Homo sapiens: one gene and its partners. The gene in region 2 interacts genetically with the main gene of each other region. Each region holds a gene or a part of one and is shown on either strand. Other genes may lie near its edges.

The links.
Region 1: changes in SEC23B (region 2) and EED together harm fitness less than expected from each alone (positive genetic interaction), as found in Homo sapiens cells (one large-scale study listed by BioGRID).
Region 3: changes in SEC23B (region 2) and DAZAP1 together harm fitness more than expected from each alone (negative genetic interaction), as found in Homo sapiens cells (one large-scale study listed by BioGRID).
Region 4: changes in SEC23B (region 2) and HDAC8 together harm fitness less than expected from each alone (positive genetic interaction), as found in Homo sapiens cells (one large-scale study listed by BioGRID).

The regions. Positions count from the first base shown.
Region 1 is NC_000011.10:86,249,939-86,257,448, forward strand, and holds part of EED (polycomb protein EED), read left to right. Parts: intron 1-357; coding exon 358-510; intron 511-2,209; coding exon 2,210-2,302; intron 2,303-5,283; coding exon 5,284-5,349; intron 5,350-6,448; coding exon 6,449-6,574; intron 6,575-7,510. UniProt on the Homo sapiens protein: Polycomb group (PcG) protein. Component of the PRC2/EED-EZH2 complex, which methylates 'Lys-9' and 'Lys-27' of histone H3, leading to transcriptional repression of the affected target gene.
Region 2 is NC_000020.11:18,509,189-18,516,698, forward strand, and holds part of SEC23B (protein transport protein Sec23B), read left to right. Parts: intron 1-1,633; 5' UTR 1,634-1,647; coding exon 1,648-1,868; intron 1,869-3,036; coding exon 3,037-3,094; intron 3,095-6,461; coding exon 6,462-6,548; intron 6,549-7,510. UniProt on the Homo sapiens protein: Component of the coat protein complex II (COPII) which promotes the formation of transport vesicles from the endoplasmic reticulum (ER).
Region 3 is NC_000019.10:1,405,901-1,413,844, reverse strand, and holds the start of DAZAP1 (DAZ-associated protein 1), read right to left. Parts: upstream 6,260-7,944; 5' UTR 6,072-6,259; coding exon 6,043-6,071; intron 5,961-6,042; exon of another isoform or gene 4,224-5,960; coding exon of another isoform or gene 3,766-4,223; intron 1-3,765. UniProt on the Homo sapiens protein: RNA-binding protein, which may be required during spermatogenesis.
Region 4 is NC_000023.11:72,561,117-72,568,626, forward strand, and holds part of HDAC8 (histone deacetylase 8), read right to left. Parts: intron 6,915-7,510; coding exon 6,773-6,914; coding exon of another isoform or gene 6,769-6,772; exon of another isoform or gene 6,681-6,768; coding exon of another isoform or gene 6,641-6,680; exon of another isoform or gene 6,466-6,640; intron 1-6,465. UniProt on the Homo sapiens protein: Histone deacetylase that catalyzes the deacetylation of lysine residues on the N-terminal part of the core histones (H2A, H2B, H3 and H4).

The DNA of each region.
Region 1 (7,510 bases), on a different chromosome or scaffold from region 2:
AGACCAGTTAGGCTTTTTCAGCACTTCCAGTACCTTTTGTAAAGAGCTGTAAAGATTCACTGATACAGTGTATTAAAGTGACTGGAACAGACCAGTGCCTTATTAAAGACAGTATTACTCTTCCATTATTCTCATTAGTATTTATTTCATTTTCATTTTTGTTGAAATATAAAATATCTACAAACCTTCTAACCTGTAGCTGGATTATGTTTATCCTTATGTGGAGGCAAGAATACATTTTTTTCTTCTTGTAGAAATTATTTCTCTTAGGTCAGTCAGCATCTTCCCAGTAGAGTTATTTACTGCTAAAAACAGTATTGCTGTTTCATGTAATTTTTCCTCATTTACTGCTTACAGGATGACGCTGTCAGTATAGAAAGTGGTACAAACACTGAACGCCCTGATACACCTACAAACACGCCAAATGCACCTGGAAGGAAAAGTTGGGGAAAGGGAAAATGGAAGTCAAAGAAATGCAAATATTCTTTCAAATGTGTAAATAGTCTCAAGGTATGTGCAAAAAAAGATCCTTTGGGCTGAATGCTAGGCTTCAGAAATTATTTCTCTGTGGCACGCATTTCGTACTCAGGATACTCTGTCAAGTTGTAAATATTTTAAAGTTACAATGTTTTCTGAAGGGTTTTTTTTTTTGTAGTTCAGACTGCGTATCTATTTTAGTCCATCCCATGTTTAGTTTTTTGGTTTTGTTTTTTGTTGTTTTAATTTAAATATGTGACAGTGTTGCAGGATGTTTTTGCTTTATTGTTTGCATTCAAATTATAAGATTTGGGTAACTATTACTCTTTATATTTTAGTAAAACTTAAAAAACATAAGCCACTTCTGGCATCAGTTTTTAAAAAGAACTGAATGTAACCCATTAACTTTGACTAAGTATAAATTGAAACAGATGTTTTACTTTGTACAGTTTCTGTCCTTTGTTTTATTTATAACTGTTTTCAAAGAAAAAGGTGTAAAAAATTTTTAAACTTTTTAATATTAAATATTTAGGGAAAAGGGGGTTTTGGTTATTTAAATTAATCTGTCCCCAATAGTATTTTTATTTACTTTATAAAAGGGGTTACTGGTGTTTAAGATATTTTCTTTTATATATGTCCAGTTTGTTTTTTAAATGTGAGGCTATTTTTTTCTATACTGAGGAAAAATGTGTATTATCTCATACATATGTAAGTTAAAACCTTTTCTAAATATCCAAATATATTTTTTATAAGTAAAGTTTTGGGAAAGCATAAGAAGCTATGACTATGACATTTTTCTGTCTGTGTAGCAAAAATTCGATGCTCAGTGTGTCAGATTTTGCTCCTGTAAAAGGAGAGAAATTAATCTCAGCATATTTTTTAAAAGTCAATTATAGTTTCATGTGCATATTTATTTACATTAACGTACTACTTTTAGGTACTGTACCTGGAAGATGTTTTTAGCTGCCTTTTATACTTAAGGCAGTATTTCAAAATCCTAAAGCTGTGGCTTTTCAAATGATGAGAAAACGAAAGACGTACTTTAAAAGTGAAAACAGTGCCTTAAACTGCATCTGAAAGTCAGTGTTAAATGCCAGAAGTTGGCCAGTAAAATCCTAAAGCTGAAAAATAACTTTGTGAACAAAAGTGCATAATTGTTCTTTGTACATCTCCTATAGCCTCCTGGTAACTGTGCAGTTACAGTTTATTTCTTCCCCTAGTCCCCAGTGTTCAGATATTCTCATTCTGACTAACAGAAAACAGTGATTTGAATGGAGTCTGCTATGCTTCACTTTACAAGGGAAAAATTTAGCCTTATAAAATTTAGTGAATGCCAGAGAAGCTATTAAGGCCATCTGTTAATTTCCTGTTTCAGAAAAATAAATTGTGTCCTTTTGTATCCACCAAAATTATCCAGTTTATTGTGATTCAGAATATGATTGGCTTATTAAGAAAAAGGCAAATATTATAAGTGTTTTCGTAGGTAAGCGGTTATTACCTAACTTGTGATTTCAGCCTTTGGTTGTGATAAAACTTTATCATACACAATATTTTAAAATGTGAAAACTAGACTAGTAGACATCTTTTAATTTTAGTGTCAAAAGTTAGCTTATGTATGATACACAAAATAATGTATTGCATTTTGGAAAAAAGAAGGGGATAGGTTAGTTTACTGTCATTTTCTGGTTTGTAAGATACATTAATCTTTTCTTATTTCATGATTATTTTATAGGAAGATCATAACCAACCATTGTTTGGAGTTCAGTTTAACTGGCACAGTAAAGAAGGAGATCCATTAGTGTTTGCAACTGTAGGAAGCAACAGAGTGAGTGTTAAGGGGTCTATTTAGTATTTGGCTTGATTTCCAGATCTGGTGTTAATGTAATATTGAAATAGAATAATTTCAAAGTGCATTTTGTGAAGCTGGTTTAGCAATATGATTCTTTCATGTAAGAGTGAAGGTTTCTAGAAATTAATTAAAACTAGTATGCATGGCTGAAAATACATCTATATTTAATATATTACCCCTAATTATTTATGAAACAGGTTTTATACTTGTATTTGTCTTCATAAATACTTGGTTGAAAGAATTGGCGTCCTTTTTTTTTTTTTTTAATTGGCGTTCTTTTTAAAGTGATTTTGGTATTTATCATTCAAATAGCGTAAGAACTGGCTGTGATTTTTTTAAAATTAAGGTAATGAATGGCTCTATAAATGAAGCATAAATCCAGTGGATTTAAATAAGTTATTGAGATGTTTTAATTACTTGCAGTAAACATTTGAGTTTGCTGGGTTTTTTTGTTTTGAGACAGGTAGTGTTTGGTGGTGATTGTTGTTGTTGTTGTTGTTGTTTGTTTTTGAGAGAGAGAGAGTCTTACTCCTTCCTCCAGGATGGAGTGCAGTGGTTAATCAAGGCTTACTGCAGCCTCAACTTCTGGGGCTCAGGTGATCCTCCCATGTCAGCCTTCTGAGTAGCTACAGGCATGCACTACCATCCCTGGCTAATTTTTTTTGTAGGGATAGGTTTTCACCGTGTTGCCCATGCTGGTCTTGAACTCTTGGGCTCAAGCAATCTACCTGCCTTGGCCTCCCAAAGAGCTGGGGTTGCAGTCATGAGCCACCATGTCCAGCCTTTTAAGGAAATTTTATAATGACATGTAAGGCTCTAGGCCTTTTACTATTTGACAAGGTCAATTCATTGAAACTCTAAATATTTTTAAGTTACCACTGAAGTTGATAACATGAAATAATAGCTTTTTTTCTTCTGTTTTTGGTGTTTAGTCAAATGTAGGTTTTAAGATAATGTAGTCTGCTTATAGTTGTTTAGTTCCTAGATTCTTTGAAAACAACAATTCAGAGGAAAAATTTTGCGGTTTTAAGAAAAGGTTGAGGTTATTTTTTTCCTAGTTGGGAATGTAGTGCATTAATTAAATTTGAGTCCACTTTTAAGACACCACTGTAAACCTAAGTTAATATTTAGCTTTGATAGTATTATAATTGGTATAGTTTGTGCTCCAGTGTGCTGATTGCAGTGTTTTAGGTTTTCTAACAAAAAGAATCCCTATTTTTATTTAAAGTGACATAAAGGGGTGTCATATAGTTTATTGAATTATAAAAAGTTCTGCTGTTAGAATTTCTTTAAAAGGAAGAAAGAAAACAAAAACAATTACCACATAAGACATAACCTAGTTAGCAGCCATATAAAGAATTTTTTTTGAACATTAACATAGAGGAGATAATGAATTAATAGGTTGTGATGATACACAGGATCTTCAGAGGTCTTCAGTACTATTATAAAATAATAATAGGTTTTTGCTAATGTGACTGACTATAAGCTATAAGAAAAATGGGGCCGGGCACAGTGGCTCACGCCTGTAATCCCAGCATTTTGGGAGGCTGAGGCAGGTGGATCACCTGAACTCAGGAGTTCGAGACCAGCCTGACCAACGTGGTGAAACCCTGTCTCTACTAAAAACACAAAAATTAGCTGGGCATGATAGCGAGTGCCTGTAATCTCAGCTACACGGGAGGCTGAGGCAGGAGGATCACTGGAATCCGGGAGGCAGAGGTTGCAGTGAGCCAAGATCATGCCATTGCACTCCAGTCTGGACGACAAGAGTGAAACTCTGTCTCAAAAAAAAAAAAAAAAAAAAAAAAAAAGAAAATGGAAAGAAATTTATAAAAGTTTAGTATTACAAAATTGTGTATGGTGTATGTATAGTTTTAATTTTAGAGTATGCAACAAATGAAAAAGGCTATCATACATGTGAAAGTTAATGTTTGATTATCTGTACCCATGAGAAAATAATTCATTAAGCAAATTGTAGACTTTTAAATATGTAACTAATATGTAAATACTCCAAAACTATCCAAAGACTTATTTTTATTTGAATTTTTATTTTTTATGGTTTTTTTTTTTTTTTGAGACTGAGTCTCTCTCTGTTGCCCAGGCTGGAGTGCAGTGGTGCAATCTTGGCTCACTGCAACTTCTGCCTCCTGGGTTCTAGCGATTCTCCTGTCTCAGCCTCCTGAGTAGCTGGGACTACAGGCACATGCCACCACACCCACCTAATTTTTGTATTTTTAGTAGAGACGGGGTTCCACCGTGTTAGCCAGGATGGTCTTGATCTCCTGACCTCGTGATCCACCCGCCTCGGCCTCCCAAAGTGCTGGGATTAAAGACATGAGCCACTGTGTCCGGACTTATTTTATTTTATTTTTTTTTGAGACAGAGTTTCGCTTTTGTTGCCAGGCTGGAGTGCAATGGTGCAATCTCGGCTCACTGCAACCTCCGCCTCCCGGGTTCAAGTGATTCACCAGCCTCAGCCTCCTGAGTAGCTGGGATTACGGGCATGTGCCACCACGCTCAGCTAATTTTTGTATTTTTGGTAGAGACAGGGTTTCACCATATTGGCCAGGATGGTCTTGATCTCTTGACCTCATGATCCGCATGCCTTGGCCTCCCAAAATGCTGGGATTACAGGCGTGAGCCACCGTGCCCGGCCTAATATTTATTTTTTAATAGAGATGGGGTTTTGCTATGTTGCCTAGGCAATTGAATGGATGAAATATAAGTTTAAAAGATTGGAAATCGAAACGACTATTACTGCAATATTTAATATGCTCTGTGTATTATGTAAAACATTCAGCTTTATAATGGCTTCTTTAAGCTCACAGGAGGTATTTTAAGGCAGTAGTTTCTGTAGTATATTTAAGATAGGATTGCGATTAAAATATGTTTAAAAGTTGGAGAGAGTATGTTTTCTATACTTGAGATGAAATTTACTGTATTTTTATTTTCATTAGGTTACCTTGTATGAATGTCATTCACAAGGAGAAATCCGGTTGTTGCAATCTTACGTGGATGCTGATGTATCCTTTCCTGGGTTTTTAATATCTTTAGTCAAAGGAATTTATTTTCAATAAGTGCACCAAAACTTTTATAAATTAATCATTTCCCTAAAGTTATTGTTCTTTCTTAACCGATTTCTTCACTATCACCCAAGAGAATCCTGTATCTAGTTTTCCTGACCCTTAGAAATCCATTGTGGTATGTGTCAACTCAGCTAGGCAAAAAGAAAAAGAAAAGAATCCATTGTGGGATGGATGTGCTGGTTGGGTGCAGATGTCTATAGAGATAGGAGCATTAGAAATCTAGTAATAGAAAATATTAGCAAAGACTGATTAAAACCTCCTTTTTCTTTGACCTTGCCTAGAATATATCATTTCATTGTAGTTATAATGATGAACTTGGCTTGTGACTGGTAGTCATTCTAAGTATTTGATCAACGAAGCCTAGGAAGAAAAAAAAAGTTTAGGAAAAATAAAATATATAAAAATAAAATAAAATAGGAAATAAAAATTGCAAAACAGGTTCATAAAGAAACAGAAAAATTTGAAAAGCCCGAGTTAGAGCGGTAAAAGCTAAGTAATAAGATATTTCTTCCAGATCCATTTGAAAAACCTAGCAAACAAGACAAGGCAAGGACATTCAGTCTTCTCTAAAAGATATTGAAATGTGACCTGTTGTTGTATTGAGACTGTCTCACAAAGAAAAAAGTGGAAAACTGAATTGTTCTTTTTTAGATATTTATAGAGGTATGGGGATAGAGCAGAGGTTAAACTACAGCGTGCAGGTTGGTCACCTGTTTTTGTAAAGTTTTGTTTTGAACACAACCATGCCCATTCATTTGTATATTTTCTGCAGTTATTTTGGTACTGCAACTACAGAGTTGAGTAGTTGTACAAGCAGCTAAAGAGTAAACAAAATTGAGTGGAGAGACTGTAATTTTGTTTGATCATTTGTTATGGATTTTAGACCTCAAATCACCATTGTATATATTTGGTTGTATAAGGAAAATTGAGAACTTTGGTGTCAAAAACTTTAGCAGTTCTTTATAAGTTTCTATTATAATTATTGACATGTTTCTTTTTCAAAAACATTATGTTTCTTAACTGTGGAATTTCTTAGGCTGATGAAAACTTTTACACTTGTGCATGGACCTATGATAGCAATACGAGCCATCCTCTGCTGGCTGTAGCTGGATCTAGAGGCATAATTAGGATAATAAATCCTATAACAATGCAGTGTATAAAGGTGGGTTTTTCTGGTTAAATTGTAGATCTGCTTCTTTTGAATCCACAACTGTAAAAACTTGTAATGTTAAATTTAAAACTAATGGTATGAATGTAACATTTCTCATTTGATTTGTACTTTTCTTACTGCTCTCTTTGGATGAGTCTTTTGAGACGTTTGTCACATTTGGGTAATGTAAATTAAGGAATAAGTGGGAAAATGTTAATATTTGTAGTGCTTTCTTTTTAAATCATTTCCCTCTTTCACCCTTGTCATGGTTTACTTTGAGAGGCTCTAAATGAACAATAAGAGGGAGTCCATTTTCCAAGACACCTAAACTGGAGGGGTGTTATCAAAGGGACCTTGTAACGAACATAAAGGTGAAGCCTAGGAAGTTGATAAGAAGACGGGTTTTTCAAATCACTTTCATCACCTGTTTTTAACTGTTGGGCTACATCACACTCTCCTGAGGATGCTTAAAACCCTACGCATATTGGAGCCTCCGCTAATCCGATCAGAATATCTGCAGGTGGAGTTTTGAGCATCTTTTTTTTTTTTTGTTCTGAGACAGATTCTGACTCCTTTGCCCGGGCTGGAATGTAGTAGCATGATTATAGCTCACTGCAGCCCGTCTCCTGGGCTCAAGCGATCCTCCTGCCTCAGCCTCTCAAGTAGCTGGGGCCAATTTTTAATTTGTGTGTGTGTGTGTGTGTGTGTGTGTGTGTGTATGAAGATAGGGTCTTGCTGCATTGCTCTGACTGGTCTTGAACTCCTGACCTCAAGCGATTCTGCCTTAGCTTTCCAAAGTGCTTGGATTAAAAACATGAGCCACCCACTGTGCCTGGGGTCTTTTTTTTTTTTTTTTTTCCTTTTCACCTCAAGTTTGTTGGGTGATTTTAGTATGCAGCCAAGGTTGAGAACCACTACTTTAAGTGAAACTATTTTTACATTCTCTAA
Region 2 (7,510 bases):
TTCTTGCCGTTGCCAGAAATAAACAGATTTCTTAGAGTTTCAGTTGGAGCAAACATTGGAATTCTTGTGTTCTGGGCTTTATGTAGTAGAGTAATTCATTTGCTTTTCTAGCCATGCAATATTATTGCCTTAATCAAAATTATTTACAGTATGGTACTTCCCAAAATAACAGACAGTTGTTATCCATATTCAGGAAGTGGGCGCGAGAGGCCACTTTAATTTGATAGACTCTTTAATTTGCCTTTTTACTACTTTTCTTGAGGGGCTTGTTCCCTTGAACCCCAATAGCTGAGTTGTGTGTTACCCTAGATTTTAGGATATGAACAGGATGTATAAATACTCAATGAAGTTGGGATCATCTGGGTTTGAGAGTTTAGCCTGTAGGACAGTTTTACTGACCACAGTCTTCATTTTTTTTTTGAAACAGAGTCTGGCTCTGTCGCCCAGGCTGTGCAATGGCATTGTCTCGCCTCACTGCAATCTCTGCCTCCCGAGTTCAGACGATTCTCCTGCCTCAACCTCCTGAGTAGCTGGGACTATGGGCACGTGCCACCACACCTGGCTAATTTTTGTATTTTTAGTAGAGACGGAGTTTCACTGTGTTGGCCAGGCTGGTCTTGAACTCCTGACCTCGTGATCCGCCCATCTCAGCCTCCCAAAGTGCTGCGAGTATAGGTGTGAGCCACCACACCTGGCCTTGACCACAGCCTGTCAAGGCATGAACATAAGCAACCGTGGTGAGGAAAGAGGTTCTGGTGAGACTCAGCATAATAGTAATTTTGGTAATACCAAGTAGAAATAATTTAGCTCAAAACTGGTTCCCATTATGAACCAAACTTGAAGATCAGTATCCAGCTCTTTTCTCCAAAGTTAACAAAGTGCGGAAGGGAATGAGCACCCCCCCGCTACTGAAAAAAAAATCACTTGGAATGTAAAATTTAATAGAGGAAGAAAGGAAGGAGATTAGAGAGGAAGATAGTTGGATGCCGAAACAGGGTTCAAGACTTACCCTTGAGCAAGGGGCTGAAATTGGCTTGACTGATAGGACGTGTGATCTGTGAGGAGGTTTGAAGTAGTAGTGTTTAACTACATGTAGTTTGGAGATGATCAGGTGATTGTAAACCTCCCACTCCTTTGATTTATTTTTAAGTGCTTGAAAGGAGAGGTGAGAAAGGAGCAGTGATCAATGATAACTGTGCGGTTAACTGACTTTTGGGTATCAGATGGAAAAGAAATACTGTCATTCTACAGCAACAGGTTCTTCCCAAGTATTTAAGAAACACTGTGTTAGTTGGGCCGGGTACAGTGGGTCACGCCTGTAATCCCAGCACTTTGGAAGGCCAAGGCGGGTGGATCACCTGAGGTCAGGAGTTTGAGACCAGCCTGGCCAACATGGTGAAACCCTGCCTCTACTAAAAATACAAAAAATTAGCCGGGCTTGGTGGCACAGGCTTGTAATCCCAGCTACTTGGGAGGCTGTGGCAGGAGAATCGCTTGAACCCGGGAGGTGGAGGCTGCAGTGAGCTGAGATGGGAAAAAAAGAGAAACACTGTGTTACATGACCCATCTTCTTTTTTTGACATTTAGTTCAGAATTTCACATACCATTAAGGTAATTAAAGTTTTATCTTCAGTTCCCTTTTAGACTATGGCGACATACCTGGAGTTCATCCAGCAGAATGAAGAACGGGATGGTGTGCGTTTTAGTTGGAACGTGTGGCCTTCCAGCCGGCTGGAGGCTACAAGAATGGTTGTACCCCTGGCTTGTCTCCTTACTCCTTTGAAAGAACGTCCAGACCTACCTCCTGTACAATATGAACCTGTGCTTTGCAGCAGGCCAACTTGTAAAGCTGTTCTCAACCCACTTTGGTATGGATTCTTTTGAAACTGGTAAAAATGATAAATACAATATATTATGAATTTTATGTGATGCTCATAAAAGTCATTAAATTTGGGCAGGTCATCAAATTTGTGATAAGTAGTAGATGATGAGACTCCTAAACGATTCTTGTGGTGAGTAGTAAGTGGTGAATATTTGTAGAAATCTCCCTGGCCTGATAATTCCAGATAAAATTGGAATCTTACAGGAATGAGGTAGAGGTAGAGGGAGAGGATTTGTAATTCACTTTTTTTTTGGCTGATAATCAGTTTGCTTTTGGCTTAACTGTAGACTTTATTGATTCCTCTTAAAGTAATTTCCCAGAAGAATTCGAAAGCTTAGACCGTCTTCTCATGCTTCCCGGGTACAGTGATGCTATATGGCAAGGAGAAGTAGCAGGCAGAAGAAATTTTAACTGTTAACAATTTGTTAAGTGTAATTTTTTTTTTTTTTGTGCCTGAGATAGTGACCTATTTCTTTTAAATGTGGGCATTATTTGAAATGATTTTTAAACAGGTAGAGAGTGTCATAAAATTTTTATATGAGGGAACATTTTTTACTTCATTCTCATTGCTTTTATTTAATGTGCCCATATGTGAATGCATAGCCACTGGTTATTAATTTTCTAAATGTAGAAAATAAGGGAAAAGTAACTGAAGCATTATCTTGAACCAATTTGAGGAAGTGAAATGTGCTTGCCCAACTTTTCTTAAAATGGGCTAAGTCAGGTTAAAAATCTAGAAGCATTTTCCTGTGTGTGAAATATGCTTTTAATGTTGGAATTTAGTAGTTTCACATAGCCGGACAATAAAGATGTTAGAAAAAAATCATGAAGAGTATGTTAAGATAAAAGGCAAGAGAGAAATAATGTATAATTTATATAAATCATGACATTTAAAAAATTAGGAAATTGGAAAAGAGAAAAAGATTTAGTATTTCTTCACTGTGGCTGTTTGATGGAAATTGTGGTGTACTTAGCCAGAATTCTAACTGCGGTGAACGTTTTGCATACTCATACTTATGCATACACATAGAAACACTTACTTGTGTGATTTACTGAACTTGAAATTTACAAATGAACGCTTTCTACCTTAAAAATAAAAATTTTATTTTAAAAATAAAAGTGGTACCTACTTATAATATTTATCTTTCTCACAGTCAGGTTGATTATCGAGCAAAACTTTGGGCCTGTAATTTCTGTTTTCAAAGAAATCAGGTATGTGAATTATTTTTAAAAAATGTTATATGTTTTATTTTAGTTGTATTATGAAAAAAATTAAGTTAGGTTGAATTTGTGTTTACACTGGCAGTGAGCAGTTTCTGCTGAACTCAGGGTGATAACTTTTGTTAAGCACAATATTGAATTTGAACATTTGTGGTTTATTCTGTTGAGTGGTTTTCTTGAGTCCTTGTCATTTGCTTGGGGCTGGGGAGGGGGTGTTCATTGAATTCCCTTTTCTTACACATTTTCTGTAGGCAGTGAATCTGTGACCCAAAGAAAGCACCTGTTTTTCATATTTCTCTTGACTTCAGTATATTCTGATTGGATAGTGTATATTACTGAATTTTCATTTTCTGATCTTTCTAACTTTTAGAGTCCAGGTATCAGTGTTGAGCTTCTTTTGATTTAAAAATTTTAAAAGTACCAAACTAGAAGGAGCTCACAAATCACAAGAGAGACTTCTCTATAAAAGTAACTGTGCGGCCAGGCCTAGTGGCTCATGCCTGTAATCCCAGCATTTTGGGAGGCCGAGGTGGGTGGATCATGAGGTCAAGAAATCGAGACCATTCTGGCCAACATGGTGAAACCCCATCTCTACTAAAAATACAAAAATTAGGCCGGGCGCGGTGACTTACGCCTATAATCTCAGCACTTTGGGAGGCTGAGGCGGGCAGATCATGAGGTCAAGAGATCAAGACCATCCTGGCCAACATGGTGAAATCCCCTCTCTACTAAAAATACAAAAATTAGCCAGGAGTGGTGGCAGCCACCTGTAGTCTTAGCTACTCAGGAGGCTGAGGCAGGTGAATCGCTTGAACCCGGGAGGCGGAGGTTGCAGTGAGCCGAGATTGAGCCATTGCACTCCAGCCTGGCAACAGAGCAAGACTCCGTCTCAAAATAAAATAAAAAATTAGCTGGACATGGTGGTGCGCACTTGTAGTCCCAGCTACTCAGGAGGCTGAAGCAGGAGAATCGCTTGAACCCGGGAGGTGGAGGTTGCAGTGAGCTGAGATTGCGCCACTGCACTTCAGCCTGGCAACACAGCAAGAGTGTCAAAAAAAAAAAAAAAGTAACTGTGCCTGTAGTGGAAATGTTCTAAAAGTGGATTGTGGTAATTATTGCACAACTGTACGTTTTCTAAAAATCATTGACTTGTATAATTAAAATGAGTGAATTTTATGTTGCGTAAACTATACCTCAATAAAGTTGTTAGAAAAAATTTGTGTCCAGCATAGTGTACACTGTTCTAACAGATCTTAAGCTCTTCACATGCATTCGTTCATATATTTGATCATAATTACAATTACTCATTCTCAGATACAGCATATAAGTCTAGTGATGAAGAGGACAGTGTACAATTGATGACTGACCATAGGTTCGGAAACTATAAGCAGATGTCATTTAAAATATATCTTCATGAGAGATTCAGAAGTATATAGAAATCTTAAAAGCATTTCTGCTCCCTATTACATTTAGGATTAATGTCTTTGTTTAATATAATTTATTATAGTAATTCTAAGGCAGGGTAGCATAGTGGCTAAAGAGCCAGAGATCTGTAGCCAGACTGCCTGGGTTTGGCTCTCAGATCTACCACTTATTTCCTGTGTAACTTTGGGTAGGTCACTTAACTGCCTGTGCCTCAACTTCCTTGTCTTTAAAATTAGGATGATAGTATAGTATACCTATAGTCACTTCATGAGATTATTGTGAGAATTAAACTGAGTTAATGAGTATAAAGGACTTAGAACAGTGCTTGACACATGGTAAGTGCCATATAAGTATTTGGTATTATTATGCTTACCTAAGATTGTCACCTGCCAATTTATAAGTATGATCTGCAAGTCTATGTGTCCTAAGTGGAAATAATCTTTTGTAACCTTCCTAGCTGGACAGTGTGGGGGTTTTCTAGCTCTAAATGAATGTAGAGCTGGAAGACGGAGGGATCAGGGTGATCTCCGTCTCCTTTGCTCCCTTCTGTGCAGCTGGCTGACTGCGTGGGTGAACAGGGCCTCTCCAGGTTGCTGGGAGGTGGCTGGTGTGTCTGTAGTCATAGATCGAGCTTATCCCTGCTGGGAGCTGCAGTCAGTGGGCAGTCATGGCCAGGATGGGGCTAGAGTCTTCTGCTGGCTCTGACTGAGATTCTTGCTGGGGCTCGCAAGCTCAGTTGTACCCTTCTCTCCCAACCAGAGGCCCCTAAAGCTGCCTGTCAGCTCCTCAGCAGCACTTGCATTTGGTCACTCTGAGGTCACTGGCCTGGAGTGATCATCTGCTCACTTTGGGGAGATGCACCTCAACTTGTATTTTTAATGTAAAGCTAAAGACTATTTGGATTATAAGCCAACCCACAAGCTGTGAATTTAAAACATTTGCAGAGAGTTTTAAAAACAAAAGAAAATGCCTGTGGCATTATGTTGACTGGAAAAAACAAGTTCCACATTGTATATATGGGATGTTCTCAACTGTGCTTAAGTCTGGAAGGAAATCTGCCAGGAGGTTGACAGTAGCTGCTTCTAGGTGATAGGATTTTGGGGGGCTTTTCCTCCTTTGTTTGCTTCTATTTTCCTGGACTTGCCAATTTTTCTACATTCCGTATGTATTACTTTATTGATAATAGCCAAAATAATAAACCTAAATAAAGTCTTTGGCTTTATTTAGACTATTAACTATTGATGAGATAGGTGAAATCTCAGCCTTTAATTTGCAGGGCAAAACTTAAGAAATGGTTTTCATTTGTGTGTTTTTGGCTAGGCATGGTGGCTTATGCCTGTAATCCCAGCACTTTGGGAGACTGAGGGGAGAAAATCACTTGAAACCAGGAGTTCAAGACCAGCCTGGGCAACATAAAGTGTGCTTTTAAACATTTAGAAGTTACAATAGCTTAAAACTGCTCTAAAAAATATTTTTTAAGAGGACAGAAATGATATAAATATAAGGCAGGGTTAGAAGTTTTAAATGCTGATTTTTATGTTTTTTAACGTGTCCTGTATTTTGTGCTTTCAGAATAAATACATGGTCATTACCATTTTTTTTCTTCTTTTTTGAGACAGAGTCTTGCTCTGTTTCCCAGGCTGGAGTGCAGTGGCGCAATCATGGCTCACTGCAGCCTTAACCTCCTGGGTTCAAGTGATCCTCCCACCTCAGCCTTCTGAGTAGCTGGGACTACAGGTGTGAGCCACCACGCCCAACTAATGTTTTTACTTCTTGTATACAGACAGGGTCTCACAGTGTTGCCCAAGCTAGTCTGGAGCTCCTGAGCTCAAGTGTTCCTCTCGTCTTGGCATCATTATCATTTTTACACATGGAAAATAAAAAGTGTAATATAGTTATGCCAACCCTAATAAAACTGTTTCCTTCTTTTCAGTTTCCTCCAGCTTATGGAGGCATATCTGAGGTGAATCAACCTGCCGAATTGATGCCCCAGTTTTCTACAATTGAGTACGTGATACAGGTAATTTCTTTGTTGTGCATTTAATGAGCAATGTTAAATACTGAATTTCTCTTGAAATCCTTTGTCTTCCATGTCTCTTACCTGGGCAGGGGACTTAAAGCTGTGAGGGCAGCAGGATCCTAACCTTTAGGTTTGATGTGTGTGCATCTACTGGCATTGTTTTCAAGTCCTGACATTATAGAAGGCTACTAAAAAGGTAGAACTGATTAAATTCCAAACCTGTTCTCTGTAGCCTTCTTCATCTCAGTTGATGGTACTCCATCATCTAGTTGTTTAGCTTCAGAACCTTAGACTTATCCTTGACCTCTCTCTTTCATGTTCCATATCTAATTCACTGGAAAATCCCATTGGCTCTATATTTGAAATTTATCCAGAATCCACCCACTTCCCCCTCCCTACTACCAGCTGCCCTGGGCCAGCCACTCCTTCTTACTTGAATCTTCTAATTGTTCTCCCTGATGTTACCATTGCCTATTTATACATTATTCTTCACCCAGCAGCCACAGTAATTCTTTTTTTTTTTTTTTTTACAAATTGTATTTATTCATTTATTCAGTGAGGAAAGTTTGTTTTGCTTTCAAATATTGGCCTTTGTGAATAATGCTTCAATGAATATAGCTGTTCAAATAACTGTTTACCCATATGTTGGAGGTTTGCATTTCTGCTACATTGTGTTTTATTGGAAAACTTGTCTGTCTTTATGCCAGAACTAAACTGTTTTTATTACTGTAGCTTTGTAATGTGCTTTGAAATTAGAAAAGGTGACATTGTTTCTTTTTTTTAAACATTTTTGGGCTCTTTTTTTTTTCTTTTTCTTTTTTTTTTTTTCTTCTGAGATGGAGTCTTGCTCTGTTGCCCAGGCTGGAGTGCAGTGGCACGATCTCGGCTCACTGCAAGCTCTGCCTCTCGGGTTCACGCCATTCTCCTACCTCAGCCTCCCGAGTAGCTGGGATTACAGGCGC
Region 3 (7,944 bases), on a different chromosome or scaffold from region 2:
CTTTCATTACTGAGAACAAGACAGAATTTCAGTTTCTTTTGAAACAAGTCTCAGTCCTTATGGAATCTGAGACAGCAACAGATAGCTTTCGTTTCACATAGCTGTGTCTGGAGCTCCCCACCGCAGGTGACCCGCCCGCCTCGGCCTCCCAAAGTGCTAGGATGACAGGCGTGAGGCACCGCGCGCGGCCACACTGTGTGTTTCTGTTGAGATATTTGAGAGCAGCTTCTAACGCTAAAGCTTCCTGTGTCCATGTGTCTTTTACTACCACTCAGGAGCCACCGGCGAACACCTTCTCCCTGGTCTACAGACAGAAGCCTCCGGGAAGTCCCGGAAAGCAGGGTCATCTCTTCAGTGGCAGGGACTGCCTCCAGGGCCCTGGCACAAAGTCCCTACTTCTGAATCTCAGGATGTTTTAATCAATAAAATAAGAAAGCTCCTGGCTGCCAACCTCACCAGGTCGTGAGTGAGAAGCCGGCACATCAGAAACATGCGGAGCCCTGGGCAGGCACCTCCCAGACACTGTCCATCAACTGCCCAGGCAGCAGAACCAACTCTCACACAAGTAAACGTCGGAGTCCAGGAAGCCGGGCGCGGGCAGAGGCCAAAAGGAGGAGCTGCTGGCTCTCGTGGGCTTGCTACGGGGCTGGCGGTCCGCTTGTCCTCAGCTCCAGGCTTGCTCAGCCTGCACCTTGGCTGGCGGCGTGTGGACTGAGGACGTTAACGGGGCAAGGCAACACTGGCCTACGCAGATGAAGGGGTCGGTGAGCAATGTGGCTCCTGCACCCTGCCTCTGAGGGGCCCGCTGGGTGGGAGAGTCATCACCCAGCTGACGGCATCTCCGACACTGGAAGTCGTGGCTCCTACAGACCTCACACCCCACAAACCCAAAAGGGGTGTTCTCATTAGTGGGGGAGGCGTGGGACGAGCTCCACTTCTTCCCTTGCAACCTGGAGTCCAGCGTGCAGTCTGCCCATCAAAGGTCATGATGAACATCTCCCAGGATCTGCAAGCCTGGCACCCAGGGCCTGCAGCTCGACACCTGGCAGGTGCTCAATCCACGGTGGCCGGCGCAGCCACCCTCTTCTGCCTGTTAAAGCAAAAGCCGTTTTGGATGGCAACCTCGCTTGCTGCGTGCCATTCGGGTGCCTGTGCGGTATTTATGCGTAAAGTCCATCTGCAGAGGCTTCCTCTGGCCTAGGCTGACCACAAAGAGCCCTGACCTCCTGGCAGCACCAGAGTGGGCTTCAAAAACCGGCGGCCAGCCCGGCCATTCGGGGCCAGCAGCCTCAATGGGGGCAGTTGGCAGGCGACCTTTCCCTTCCTGCTGGGCCGGGGGACCAAGCCAGGAGGAGCCTGCCTCCCCACAGACCCCACCTGGCTCTGGGCTCCGCCAGTCACACTCAGCTCCGTGCACAATCTCAAGAGGCAGAAGTCCAGGCCCAGTGGCGGCTGATGTGTGGGGAACCCTTCTCTTCTTCCAGAGCATCAGGAAGAGCCTCTAGGGACTTTCCTGCCCCTAAGACCAGGTGGGAAACCAGGACCACTTCACCCACTGCCTCAGGCCAGTGAGCCCAGCCCGCCCCTCCATAGCCTGGACTCCCTCTCCCCAGCAGGGTCAGATGCCCCCCCTCCAGCCCACGCCTGCAGGGTGTGGGGTCCACAGAACACAGGAGCGGTCCGTGAACTGGAACGCGCTGCTGTGTGCTGAAGGAGCCCCTGAATGCCCACATCCTGGGTGCTAACTGTGGTCACCCTCATCCTCTCCCTGCCAGCCCCGCCCTCCCAGGCGGACCAGTGTTCTCCTTGGCAACGCCTGGAGCCAAGCTGGAAGCTCAGCCTATAAGCATCTGTCGAATGACTGGCCTCTGCCAAAAGCCCTGTCACAGCTCTCAGGGATTCTGACATCATGACATGGTGTCACGGGGACCAGGCCTGGATGGGAAAAGGCCTCAGTTCACAGAAGACAGCACAACCTCAGATTGACGGGTCGCACCATGAACATAGCCGCCTGACCAGGAGCGCCCTCTGTGCGGGGCGGGCAGTGGAGGAGTGTGGACTCCCAGCTCCGGATCTTCCACCCCCTGGGGTGACCCCGGGCCCATCCCTCAACTCCTCTGTGCCTCAGTCTCTCTGGCAAAGCCAAGGGTTAGAGCCAAGGCTACAAGCACAGCTGGGCACGCTGCGCGCTGCTGCTAGCTCTGGGCCACTGGGGAGCTGCTGTGTGAAGGGCAAGCGCCAGGGTCCATGCTGCTGCCTTTCTAGACACCGGCCTGCTCCAGACCATTGGAGCCAAGGCGAGCCAGTCAGGAGCACATCCACCCTCAAGGCCCATTCACAGGAATCAAAGGAGCCGACACAGGACAAGCCATAAACCACAAGGAGCAGCGGCCCCCAGCGCAGGGGCAACCAGGCCAAAAGCACAGATGCTCCCAGACAGTGGCTCTCCCCCCAGCAGGACACTGGGTGATGTCTGGGAACATTTGTGGTTGTCACGACTGGGGGTACTCCTGACCCGGAGTGAATGGAGGCCAAAGGTGCTGCCCAGCACCCTGCAGTGCCCACGGTGCCCCAGAGTGATCCAGGCCAGAGTGCTGACAGAGCCCAGGAGACCTGCCTCGGAATAACTCCAAATGCACCAAGAGAGCCCCAGAAAGGCCGGCACGGCCCCATGAGGTTCCCTATCACTCCCCGCACTGCAACAGCCTCCCCCAGATCACGGCCCTCTCTGGCCTGACCAACAATCTTGCCAGGTGCCTTGTGCTCACTCTGCACAGGTACAAGTAGTCACGGCCTCTAGGGGCCCAGCCAGGAGCCCCACTCAGGATGTCTCCTTCCACAGCCACCCAATAAACCCAGAGACCTGCCATGGGCCTGGCTCTGAGCTGCATGGCCCCCGGCCACAGTCCTGGGTATCCTCGAAGCTGCCCAGAGGCGGCTTTCTCCTCTCTCCGCTGAGTCCTTCCTCCCTCTGTGACTTTCCTACAATATTTCCAGGTGTCCCTGTCTTACCATTCCCCAGTGTACCAGATAAAATCTTCCATAAACCTCTCTCTCCAGTTCCATGACCGTGTGCTGCCTTGGAAGCCAGCAGAACACAATGGCCTGGGCGCTCGAGGTGACCCCTCTGAGCCTCTGTCCTCTCCCCAGTAGGCCAGGCATGGGCCCTATCCCTGACACCTGGTCTACCACCCAGGCGCCTAGCACCCAGCGGCTACTCAACAGGATGTGGCGACCCCGGCCGCGCTGTGTCAGCTTCCCAGAATCCAAGTCAGAGGCGCTCAAGCCAGACTTTAAGATGACTTCACAAGGCCAGGGAGGGCACACTGGAGACTCGGGCCTTCCTGATCGCGCGTGCTCTGAGCGCTCCAGGCCACCTGCTGGTGCCAACCCTCTAACCCTCCTGACAGGTCAGTGCCTGTCCCCCACCCTTCACAAGAGGACCAGGACAGGCCCCGCTCCCAAAGGAGGACACTGTCCATCACATCCACCATGTAGGGTCCGCGTGCCAAACCCACCAGGATCCAGAGAGGGACTCCCCACACCCCACCACACGTATGCGCTTCCTCCTGCATGAAGCCCCCCTCAAGCTGACTGGAAGTCGGTGTGTGTAAGGCATCCGTTATCACCGGCAGGCCTCAGCTGACTTTCATCCCCCATCAAGCTTTACATGGACTTCTAAGCCAGCACAGGGACCCTCAAAACTTGGGACGACTTCTCAGACTCAAAAGCAGAGCTTCCCCCAAGGATGGCTCCCTAACCCACCTTCCAGGTGTGGATTCCCAGGGCAGCAGCTGGACGGCCACAAGTGTCCCAGAACAGGGGGCTCCCAAGCTCCAAGTCTCCTGAGGCGTTGACCCCGCACCCATGCATGCTCCAGGCCCAGCCCTCCAAGCGGGGTCCGGCGGGATCTCCTGCCTCCTCCATGGCAGTGAGCAGTGAGGGCTCTGCATCAGGAAGAGGGAGCTCCTCAGGCTGCCGAGCCCCCCCAGTGGGTAAGGGACACCGCAGACCCATGGCGTCCTGAGAGCCGCCATCTGCCGCAGAGAGGGCCTGCTTCCATCCAAGCTCAGCACCCTCCTGCATGGCACCCACCGCACCTGCAGGGGACTTGCCAGGAGGGCGCTTCGCAGGGTCACAAGCATTTCACGCACACAACAACTCCACACAGCAAGATCAGAGCAGACCGTGGACTCCGCATAGAATGGAAGCCGGTCTCCCATGCGACGGGCGGCTGTGGCAACACTTCTTGCCCAAGGAGTCTGACTTAGAAAGCAGTGGACACTCCTGGCAGCCGGGGAGGAGAGCAGGGTCCATGCACTCCAGTTCTCCTCCACGCAGCCCGTGGCGTCCGGGTGGCCTGCGAGCCTATTTGTGCTGTGGGTGGGACCCCTCCAGACCCAGGCTGGGACCCCAGCTGCCCCACTTCCCAAGGGTGTCCATGCAGGGAGGGGACAGGAGCCCTCACCTCTCTCCAGCCTCCTCACAGCCACGGCTTGGGTGGAGCGGGCCCACGTTCACCCGCGGCTTGAATGGACCTAATCCAGGTACCCCATCTGGGAGCCCTTTCCCTGCCTCACCCCAAAGTCGATGGCTCCATCCCCCATGGCCGGTGGACTCCCTGCTCAGGCCCATCCCTGCAATGTCCCTCACACAGGCACACGGACCCTGCCAAGTCAAAGTGCCTGGAGAGGACTCACAGCACGGGCTAGGCAGGGGCTAAGTGCTTTCATCCTGGTTCTCCAACGGAAGGTGCTCTTTTGTTTTGTCTGGGGAGGGGGAGAGCCCACAAAAGGCATTTCCCATCCACAAGTGTGACCTGTAGCTGGTGCGAGAGGCGCCTGCCAAGGCAACCCTCTAGCAGCAACCGCTCCCGCACTAGCCAAGCCCAGCGCTGAGAACACAGGGCGCTGCTCAAAGCTAAGGGCACCGAGAAATTTACACCAGACCACTAGGAAACCCAACCCAGACTGTTTTGCCGGAAGAATGCAACTCTAAAACGACGTCGCTGCGGCAGGAGCCGCTCCTACCAAAGAATGGCGCCGAGCCCTGGGGCACAGCGAAATGAGGTTTCCCGGCCCCGCGGGGTCCGGAGCAGGTCAGGCTCCTATAGGAGGGGACGCCTCGGCGCAGCAAAGATCCGCGGGCCCGTCGCCGCCTCGGAAGCGCTGACTCTCCCTTCCGCAGCTCAAGCCCACCCCCGGCGGGGAGGCGCCGAGGCAACGTAAACACAGCAGGCCCCGGCTGACCCGAGCCCCCTGGGCCCTGGGTTTGCGAACCCCTCCCGACCTTACCACTTTGGGGGGGTGGGATGGGAGCGGGGAGCCCGGAGCCCCGAGTGGGATAGGTTGGGCGGTGGCAGAACCGGAACCCTCGCCTCGGCTCGCCACGTGCGCCGCCCGCCAAGTTTGGGCGCGCGCTGGGGGCGCCCCGGACCACCCCCCACGCCACAGTTTGGGGTCCCCCTGGCCAGGAAGCCGGGAGGCGGCGGCGACGGCGCCCTGGACTCCCCGCAGACTCCCTCAGGTTCTCATTCGGGGTCCCCCAGGCCAGGAAGCCCTACAGGCGGCAACGGGGACGCTCCAGACCCCCCCAAGTTCCCGTTCGGGGCCGCCACAACCAGGAAGCGGCGGCGGGGGCCCCTGAACCCCTCTGGCTCCCATTCGGGGTCCCTCAGGACGCGCAGTCGGGAAGCGGCGGCACGGGCGCCCCAGGACACCCCCCCAGGTTGCCGTTCGGGGTTCCCCCGACCAGGAAGTCTGGAGGCGGCGGCGGGGCCCCCCGGACCCCTCAGGCTCTCCTTCAGGATCCCCCAGGACGGGAAGCCGGGAAGCGGCGGCGGGGGCGCCAGGACCCCCCCAGACCCCGGGCACCCGTCCAGGGCCCCCGGCGCGAAGCCGCGGCGAGTCCGGGTCCCGAGTCCGCCCCCGGCCGGCGTGACCTTGACGGGGCGGCCCCGGGGGGCGGCGTCTGAGGCCGGGCGGCGGGGAGCGGCGGGCCGGGCTCGGGGCGGAGACGCAGGCCCGCGCCGCTCGTCCTCACCCGATCTCGTCGGCGCCCGAGTTGTTCATGGCGGCGGCGGCGGCGACGCTCGGCGCTCCCGGGCCTCCTCGCTCGCTCCCGCCTCCGGAAGGTCACCCGCTCCGTCGCCCTCCCCACAGCCGCGGCCCGGATCTGCGCAACGGCGGCGGCGGCGGCGGCGGCGGCGGCGGCGGCGGCGGCGGCTGCCTCCTCCCCTCGGCGCCAACGGTCACCGCGCGTCCCCGCGCCGCCGCGCCGCCGCCCCTGCGCACGCCCGGGCGCGCTCCCGCACGGGGTCTCCGGGGGCGGGTCCAGGGGTACTCCGTCTGTGCGTGCGTCCCTGAGGCGGATTTCGCGCCGCCGCAGTCGGGGCCGTCGCGCGTTTTCCTTTCTCCTCGGAGGCTCCTGGCGTTGCCGCGGGGCACGCTGGGAAATGGAGTCCCTGCGCTGGCCCCGCCCCTGCAAGGGGAGGATGCGCGCGGGCCGAGCCACGTGCGTGCGTGCGCGCGCGTGCGGGCTTGCGTGCGCGTGCGCGCTTGCGAGACCGGCGCTCCGGGCTAGGCACTGTGGGCGCAGGCGCGGCTGCCGCTTCCTCTTTAACTCTTCACTCGGAAGCGGTGGAGCCGCGTGGGGCGCTGCGGGGAGTGGGAGTGTACCCGCCCGCACCCCAGGCGGGCGGACGGAGCGGGAACGGCACGTGAGCGTCCCGCGCGAGGCTCCTTCCCCTGTCCGCATTTCACAGAAGAGGATCCCGAGGGTCCGAGAGGCTGAGTCACTTGGCCAAGGTCACCCAGTTCGGGGCTGAACTGGAATCAAATCAAAACAATTAACTAAATTCAATGACTATGAAAAGATATTATTGACCCCCCCCCCAAGTGCTATTACTATTAATAGCCAAATACTGTTTTAGTTGCATCTGTTAATTGCATACATCAGTGGTTCTTCTTCTGGGTGACTTTGCCCCCTAGGGGATAACTTGGCAATGTCTGAAAACACGGTTTTGGTTGTCACAACTTGAGTGCGGGGTGCTGCTGGCATCGAGTGGGTCCAGACCAGACATGCCGCTCAGCACCCTGCAGTGCACACGACGACCCCCCAAAAAGAATGATACCCGTCCTCCAATGTCAGCAGAAGGAGGTGGAAAAACCGGTCTAGGCTGACGGTAGTAAACAGGTGACCCGCAGGGTTTTGTAAAACCGGGTACGTGCTGCCTACTGCTTTTCTCCTTAATCTCACAGCACATTGACAGCCTGATCGTTTGGTTTATTCATCATCACAGAATTAAATAAATACAAGGAACAAGGCCGGGTGAGGTGGCGCACGCCTATAATCCCAACACTTTGGGAGGCCGAGGATCAATTTAGGTCAGGAGATCGAGACCAGCCTAGCCAACATATATAGTGAAACCCCGTCTCTACTAAAAATACAAAAGAAAATTAGCCGGGCGTGGTGGTGGGCGCCTGTAATCCCAGCTACTCGGGAAGCTAAGGCCGGAGAAATGCTTGAAGGCAGGAAGTAGAGGTTGCAGTGAGCCGAGATCGCGCCACTGCACACCAACCTGGGCAACAGAGCAAGACTCCCTCTTAGAAAAAAAAGGGCCGAGCATGGTGGCTCACTCCTGGAATCCCAGCAGTTTGGGAGGCCAAGGTGGGCGGATCACGAGGTCAGGAGATCGAGACCATCCTGGCTAACATGGTGAAACCCCGTCTCTACTAAAAGTACAAAAAATTAGCTCGGCATGGTGGCAGGCGCCTGTAGTCCCAGCTACTCAGGAGGCTGAGGCAGTAGAATTGCTTGAACCCAGGAGGCAGAGCTTGCAGTGAGCCGAGATCGTGCCACTACACTCCAGCCTGGGCGACACGGCAAGACTCTGTCTCAAAAAAAAAAAATACAAGGAACAAGATCACAGACAAATAGTACAAA
Region 4 (7,510 bases), on a different chromosome or scaffold from region 2:
CTGCCGAAAGCAATCTACAAATTCAGTGCAATTCCCATCAAAATACCACCATCATTCTTCACAGAAATAGAAAAGACAATCCTAAAATTTATATGGAACCAAAAGCTAAGCCAAAACTAAGACTAAGCAAAAAGAACAAATCTGGAGGCATCACATTACCCAACTACAAACTATAAGGCCATAGTCACCAAAACAGCACGATACTGGTATAAAAATAGCACATAGACCAATGGAACAGAATAGAGAAGCTGGAAATAAAGCCAAATGCTTATAGCCAACTCATCTTTGACAAAGCAAACAAAAACATAAAGTGGGGAAAGGACACCCTATTCAACAAATGGTGCTGGGATAATTGGCAAGCCACATGTAGAAGAATGTAACTGGATCCCCATCTCTCACCTTATCAAAAAATCAACTCGAGATGGATCAAAGACTTAAATCTAAGACCTGAAACTATAAAAATTCTAGAAGATAACATTGGAAAAACCCTTCTAGACATTGGCTTAGGCAAAGAATTCATGACCAAAGACCCAAAAACAAATACAACAAAAATAAAGATAAATAGATGAAACATAATTAAGCTAAAATGCTTCTGCACAGCAAAAGAAATAATCAGCAGAGTTAACAACCCACAGAGTGGGAGAAAATCTTCACAATCTATACATCTGACAGAGGACCAATATCCAGAATTACAAAGAACTCAAACAAATCAGCAAGAAAAAAGCAAATAATCCCACTAAAAAGTGAGCTAAGGACATGAATAGACAATTCTCAAAAGAAGATATACAAATGGCCAACAAACATATGAAAAAATGCTCAACATCACTAGCGATCAGGAAAATGCAAATCAAAACCACAATGTGATACTATCTCACTCCTGCAAGAATGGCCATAATAAAAAAATCAAAAAATAATAGATGTTGTTATGGATGTGGTGAAAAGGGAACACTTTTACACTGCTGGTGGGAATGTAAACTAGTACAATCACTATGGAAAACAGTGTGGAGACTCCTTAAAGAACTAAAAGTAGATCTACCATTTGATTTAGCAATCCCACTACTAGGTATCCACCCAGAAAAAAAGAAGTCATTATACGAAAAAGATACTTGCACACGCATGTTTATAGCAGCACAATTTGCAAATGCAAAAATATGGAACCAGCCCAAATGCCCATCAATCAACAAGTGGATAAAGAAAATGTTTTATATATACACCATGGAATACTACTCAGCCATAAAAAGGAATGAGATAATGGCATTCATAGCAACATGGATGGAATTGGAGACTATTATTCTAAGTGAAGTAACTCAGGAATGGAAAACCAAACGTCGTATGTTCTCATTCATGTGGAAGATGAGCTATAAGGACACAAAGGCATAAGAACAACACATTAGACTTTGGGGACTCGGGGGAAAGGATGAGGGGTGATAAGGGATAAAAGACTACACAATGGGTACAGTGTACACTGCTTGGGTGATGGGTGCACCAAAAGCTCAGAAATCACTACTAAATAACTTACTCATGTAACCAAACGCCACCTGTTCTCCAAAAGCCTATTGAAATAAAAAAATATATATATAAAGTTGTAAAAAGAAAATTAAATTAAAAAATAAAAAATAATATTTGGGAGAAAAAATAATTCTGCCACTATATTATTGTTATTCTAAGATAACCACTGTTATCATTCCCACCAGTCTTTTTTTCTTCATATGTTTTACAAAGCTGTGATTACAATGTGCATACATTTTTAAGACCTATTTTTTTTCTTTTTTTTTTTTTTTCTGAGACACAGTCTCACTCTGTCACCCAGGCTGGTGTGCAGTGGCACGATCTCGGCTCTCCGCAACCTCTGCCTCCTGGGTTCAAGCGATTCTCCTGCCTCAGCCTCCCGAGTAGCTGGGATTACAGGTGCCCGCCACCATACCCGGCTAATTTTTGTATTTTTAGTAGAGGCAAGGTTTCACCATGTTGGCCAGGCTGGTCTTGAACTCCTGACCTCAGGTGATCCACCTGCCTCGGCCTCCTAAAGTGCTTGGATTACAGGCATGAGCCACTGCACCCAGCCAAGACCTGCTTTTTTATTGACACACATAAAGTATTTATCTGAAGTTCCCTATAATCCTTATAATCATTATTTAAAATAATAGCATAAGGCTGGGCATGGTGGCACACAACTGTAATCCCAGCACTTTGGGAGGGCAAAGTGGGCTGATTGCTTGAGCCCAGGAGTTAGAGACCAGCCTGGACAACATGGCAAGACCCCATCTCTACAAAAAAAGCCAGGTGTGGTGGTATGTGCCTGTAGTCCCAGCTACTCAGGAGGCTGATGTGGGAGGATTGCTTGACCTTTGGGGAGCAGAGGTTGCAGTGAGCCAAGACCGTGCAACTGCACTCCAGCCTGGGCGACAGAGCAAGACCCTGTCTCATAAGTAAATAATAAATAAATAAATAAAAACAAAAAGCTTTTGCACAGAAGAAAAACAGTAAAACAATAGGATAATATTCTAAGGAGTAGATTCACCATTCCTTTATTGCTAGGCATTCATGTTATTTTAGTTTTTAAAATTTTATAAATAACACTGATAAATACCTTCATGAAAATAGTTTGTTTCCCATATTTAAAAAAAAAATTAGGCCACATTCCCAGAAGTAAGATTACCTGATCAAAGGGCATTAATACACATTGGCTACCAAAATGCTTTCTTCCAAACCACACTCACTAGGAAACTGAGTACCATCTTTTTCAATTCTGTTAAATTTAGGCTTAAAAAGTGGTGGCTCATGCCTGTAATCCCAGCACCTTGGGAGGCCGAGGCAGGCAGATCATGAGGTCAGGAGTTCGAGACCAGCCTGACCAACACGGTGAAACCCCGTCTCTACTAAAAATAAAAAAATTAGCCGGGCATGGTGGCACGCGCCTGTAATCCCAGCTACTCAAGAGGCTGAGGCAGGAGAATCGCTTGAACCCGGGAGGCAGAGGATGCAGTGAGCCGAGATCACACCATTGCACTCCAGCCTGGATGACAGAGCCGAGATTCTGTCTCAAAAAAAAGAGGCTTACCTAATGGTTTTAATTTACATTTCTTTGATTAGTAGTGATGAACATTTTCCAATGTTTTCCAGTTGTCCTTAAACTCCTTTGTAAATTGTCTATTCGTGTTCTTTGTGCAGATTTCTTCTTATACATTATATTGTAGGAGTGGGTTAGATAATACAAGCCTATTACACTTTGTCATATTTATGATACATAGGCTTTTTCAGTCTGTGTTTAGATTTTGAAAATAGCCAAAAAACCTTTTAAAAGTTATTTTGGTTTTAAAATTTTGTACAGTCGGGTTTGATCTTTTCCTTTGTGATTTTAAAAAATTACTTTCTAAGCTTAGAAAATTCTTCCCCTTTAGAAGCTTGATAAATATCCATTCACTCTAGTGTTTAAAATTTGCTTTTTTAAATATTTAACTTTTCAATCTAGCTGTCACTCATTTTAGTTTATTACAGTAGATGAGGGTATAATGGTACAAGCTGTCACAATACCATTCATTTACTCAACAGACCTTTCAACTCCCATTCACTTGCAATGCATCCTTTGTAATAGATTAAATTCTATATAATTGGTCTCTTTGTTGGGGTGGGGGGTGTACTATAACCTATCTGTCTAATTTTTGTACCAGTGTTTTCATTACTGTAGTTTTGGATGCTTAATATCTAATAGTATTAGTCCTTCGTTACTCTTCTTTTGTAGAATATTCTTTGAAAATCATCCTTTTTTAGCTTTCAAATGCAATTATTTGCTGTCTTACTCCTAAGATATAAATTTCTTGCAGGTAGAATTGGTTTATTTCCTTAGAATAGATTGCCAAGAATATTGTTACTGGCCCAACTGGTATGAACATTTTTTCCCATTCTTAACACTTCCAAGGTTTTCAAAAGGGGTTGTATTAATTTCACTGTAATCCTTCTACCACCTGGATATTTTGAAATAAAGAATCTTTTTCAAACTTGGTAGGGGAAACAATATATCTTGCTTCAATTTCTATATCTCTGCTTACTGGTGATGATAAACATACATTTGACATGTAGTAGGTGCCTAATCAATGCTTGTTCAATGAATAAATGGCATGTATGAATCTGTACATATATTTGCAGATGGGAAGTTTAAGCAAATATTGTGATTATAATAGGTAAATGTTGGCTAGATGTAAGTTTGTGGCCTAAATGCCTGTAGTCCATCTACAGAGAGGTTCTAGTTATGCCAAGAACACCTTGGAATTCAGACCTAAACTGGGGCAATCTCTAGAGACTCTGTAATTTATATTTATCACAGGCATGTCCGTTTCCATGCAGGATCAGCTGAAAGATGTCTACAACAGTTAAGGCGATATATGTGGGTATCCCCATGTCTGTGTGCAGCCCAGAAGCAGTCGTGATTGGGTCAAGACAGAGTGTACTTCCTTTGGCAGCAAAACAGTAATAAGAAGCAGAGTACTCCACTGGAAAATGACCCAGGCCCTAGTAGGCCTTCTGCAGTTAATTTAATTGCATAATAAACTGGATGTCATTCATAGAAGCAAGCCTTTTCTATGAAGCCACACTACTTTTCTTCTCAACTTGCCAAGCCCAAGAGGACCTAGAAGTCTTTCGTTCAGAGAAGCTTAGCTTTCTCCTTTCACTCTGCACCTGGGAGGGGAGAGGGTCATTTTTTTTCTCCTAGCAGTCATTGTCTTTATTTTGAATTTAAAAAAAAGGCAGGCGGTGTGCAGTGGCTGTCATGTGTAATGCCAGCACTTTGGGAGGCCAAGGTGGGAGGATCACTTGAGGCCAGGAATTTGAGACCAGCCTGGGCAACATAGCAAGACCTCATCTCTACAAAAAATACAAAAATTATCCAAGCATGGTGGCACGTGCCTGTAGTCCTAGCTACCTAGAAGGCTGAGGTGGGCAGATCCCTTGAACCCAGGAGTTCGAGACTGCAGTGAGCTATGATTGCACCACTGCACTCCAGCCTTGGTGACAGAGAGAGACTCTGTCTCGAAAAAAACAAAACAAGAAAGAAAGAAAGAGGCCAGGTGTGGTGGCACATACCTGTAATGCCAGCACCTTGGGAGGCTGAGGATGGAGGATCCCTTGAGCCCAGGAGTTCAAGATCAGCCTGGGCAACATAGGGAGACATTGTCTTTATTAAAAAACAAAAAACAAAAAACAAACAAACAAACAAACAAAGCAAGAAAAAAGCAAGCAGGCAAGCAAGCAAAAGCTAACAAAAGGCAGCTTGTCTCTGTTTTTAAAACCATGTAAGACTCATTACTAAAACATTGGTTTCCTTTGCTGTGTTGCCCAACTAGTAAATTCTAGCAGTAAACTTTTTCAAGGACTTCCTTGGCCACAAAATCTGTCAATTTGATGGAAAAAATTCTGTTATTATCTTAACCTGCATATGCTGAAGTTGTGCTGTGTTTTATTCTGAAAAACAAAGTGTTGTTTTCTCTTGACCTAAGAGCACCTAAGGTCACGGTTGATTGCATGAACAATTGATTCCTGAGTGAGGCATTGGCAGTTACTACCACAGTGGCTTCATTTCTCTCAGACAGAGGATCGATAAATTCAGAGTTTAAAAAATCCTTCTTCTTCAATGTGGATTAAGTACTACAGAAATATCAAACAAAGTCCCAAATGCTGAAGGAGGGCCCAGCAATCCTTCTCAGACAGACTACTGCAGTTTGACATGTTAACATAAAACTCTAGAAGGTGGCCAGGCGCGGTGGCTCACCCCTGTAATCCCAGCACTTTGGGAGGCCAAGGCAGGCAGATCACCTGAGGTCAGGAGTTTAAGACCAGCCTGGCCAACGTGGTGAAACCCTGTCTCTACAAAAATACAAAAATTAGCTGGGCATGATGGCGGGTGCCTGTAATTCCAGCTACTCAGGAGGCTGAGGCAGGAGAATCACTTGAACTGGGAAGGAGGAGGTTGCAGTAAGCTGAGATCGCGCAACTGCACTCTAGCCTGAACGACAGGGCGAGACTCTGTCTCAAAAACAAACAAACAAATAAACAAACAAACACTCCAAAGGACTTCTCCTCTAACTCCAAGAAGCACCTAGGAAGAGCCTTTTCACAAGCCCTTTGTCTTTGAGAGACATCTACCTCTGGGTTGCTACTTTCATTAGAGGAGCATGAGCCCTCTTCTTGATTCTTCAGCCTTTTGTTTTAAACCTATTAGCGTCAATTTTCCACCTTTTTAAAAATCTGTTTGCCACTTCTTTTAAGAACTAGCTCTAAAATTCACTTCTGCCAAGACTTCCATGATTAATTTCTTTCTACTGATAAGTCTCTTCAGCTCATACATATATTCCATTGGTACCATAACTAATGTTGTTCTCTATTCTAATTTTGTTAATGTTTCTAGACTGTAAGTCCCTCGAAGACAGGGGAATTTCTAGAAAGCCGAAAAGGAATTTAGAGACTGTCTAGTTGTATCCTTTGTTCATTTTATTGATGAAGAAACTGAGGCCTAGGGAGGGTAATCAGTCCAAGTCAGTTAGCCAAGTTAGAAAAACTAGGTGTAGAGCCCAGGTGTCCTGACTTTGAGCAGTGTGCTTTCCACTATATTAGGTAATCTTTTTTCTATTTCACTTGGATTTCTTCAGAATGCCTTGTAAAGTGCCACATACACACACGTCTCTCTGTAAATGTCAATACAATAAGCATAAGAGTTTACATAACTGAGAAACTGACTCAAGGAAAGAGTCAGAAAACAGAAAGGTCATTTTCTTACTTCTTTGCATGATGCCACCCTCCAGACCAGTTAATTGCTACTTTGCACATTCCGTCAATCAGGCATTGGGCAGCTGTGATCGTAGCCCCTCCTATAGCTGCTGCATAGTCAAATATCCCTTCAGTGGCTGGGCAGTCATAACCTTAGGGCAAAAATCAGAAGAGCTGGTTAAAAGGTGAACTGGAAAAAGAGGAGGAATAGGTTGAGGTGTGACAACAACCTAACCTACTAAAAAGCCACTGTGCTAATATCAGCTCCAACTGAGACAGAAACAACTCCAATGTTGGGGATATAATATTTTAAAAGGTTAGAGCTAGAAAGGATAAACCCTCCTGATGAACTAGTCACAGGCTACAGATAGAGAAACCAAGCCTGAGAGGTGATGTGTCTTGTCAGTGGTCACACAGAGCCAGGCTTGGGACCCAGCTCTGTTGACCCCCCAGTTCAATGTTCCTCTGCTAAACCATGCTGTTTTTCTAGACTATCCTGCAGGTCACTTACAGTTTTAAAAAATGCAGCTGTTTAATGAGGGGTGAGGTACAAAAACTTAGCCAGAACATAAATCTGTACTCCAGTTAAAATATAAGGTCACAGGACAGCTAAATCAGCATATACACAGCCAGACCAGATCTGAGCACTGCCAGTAGGGCATAAGCAACTGAAAGGTTTTCTTTCATCTAACCCTTCATGTGGTTTTGCTCAACTCATATGGTTTGCTTGTTTAGTGAGTTATATGTG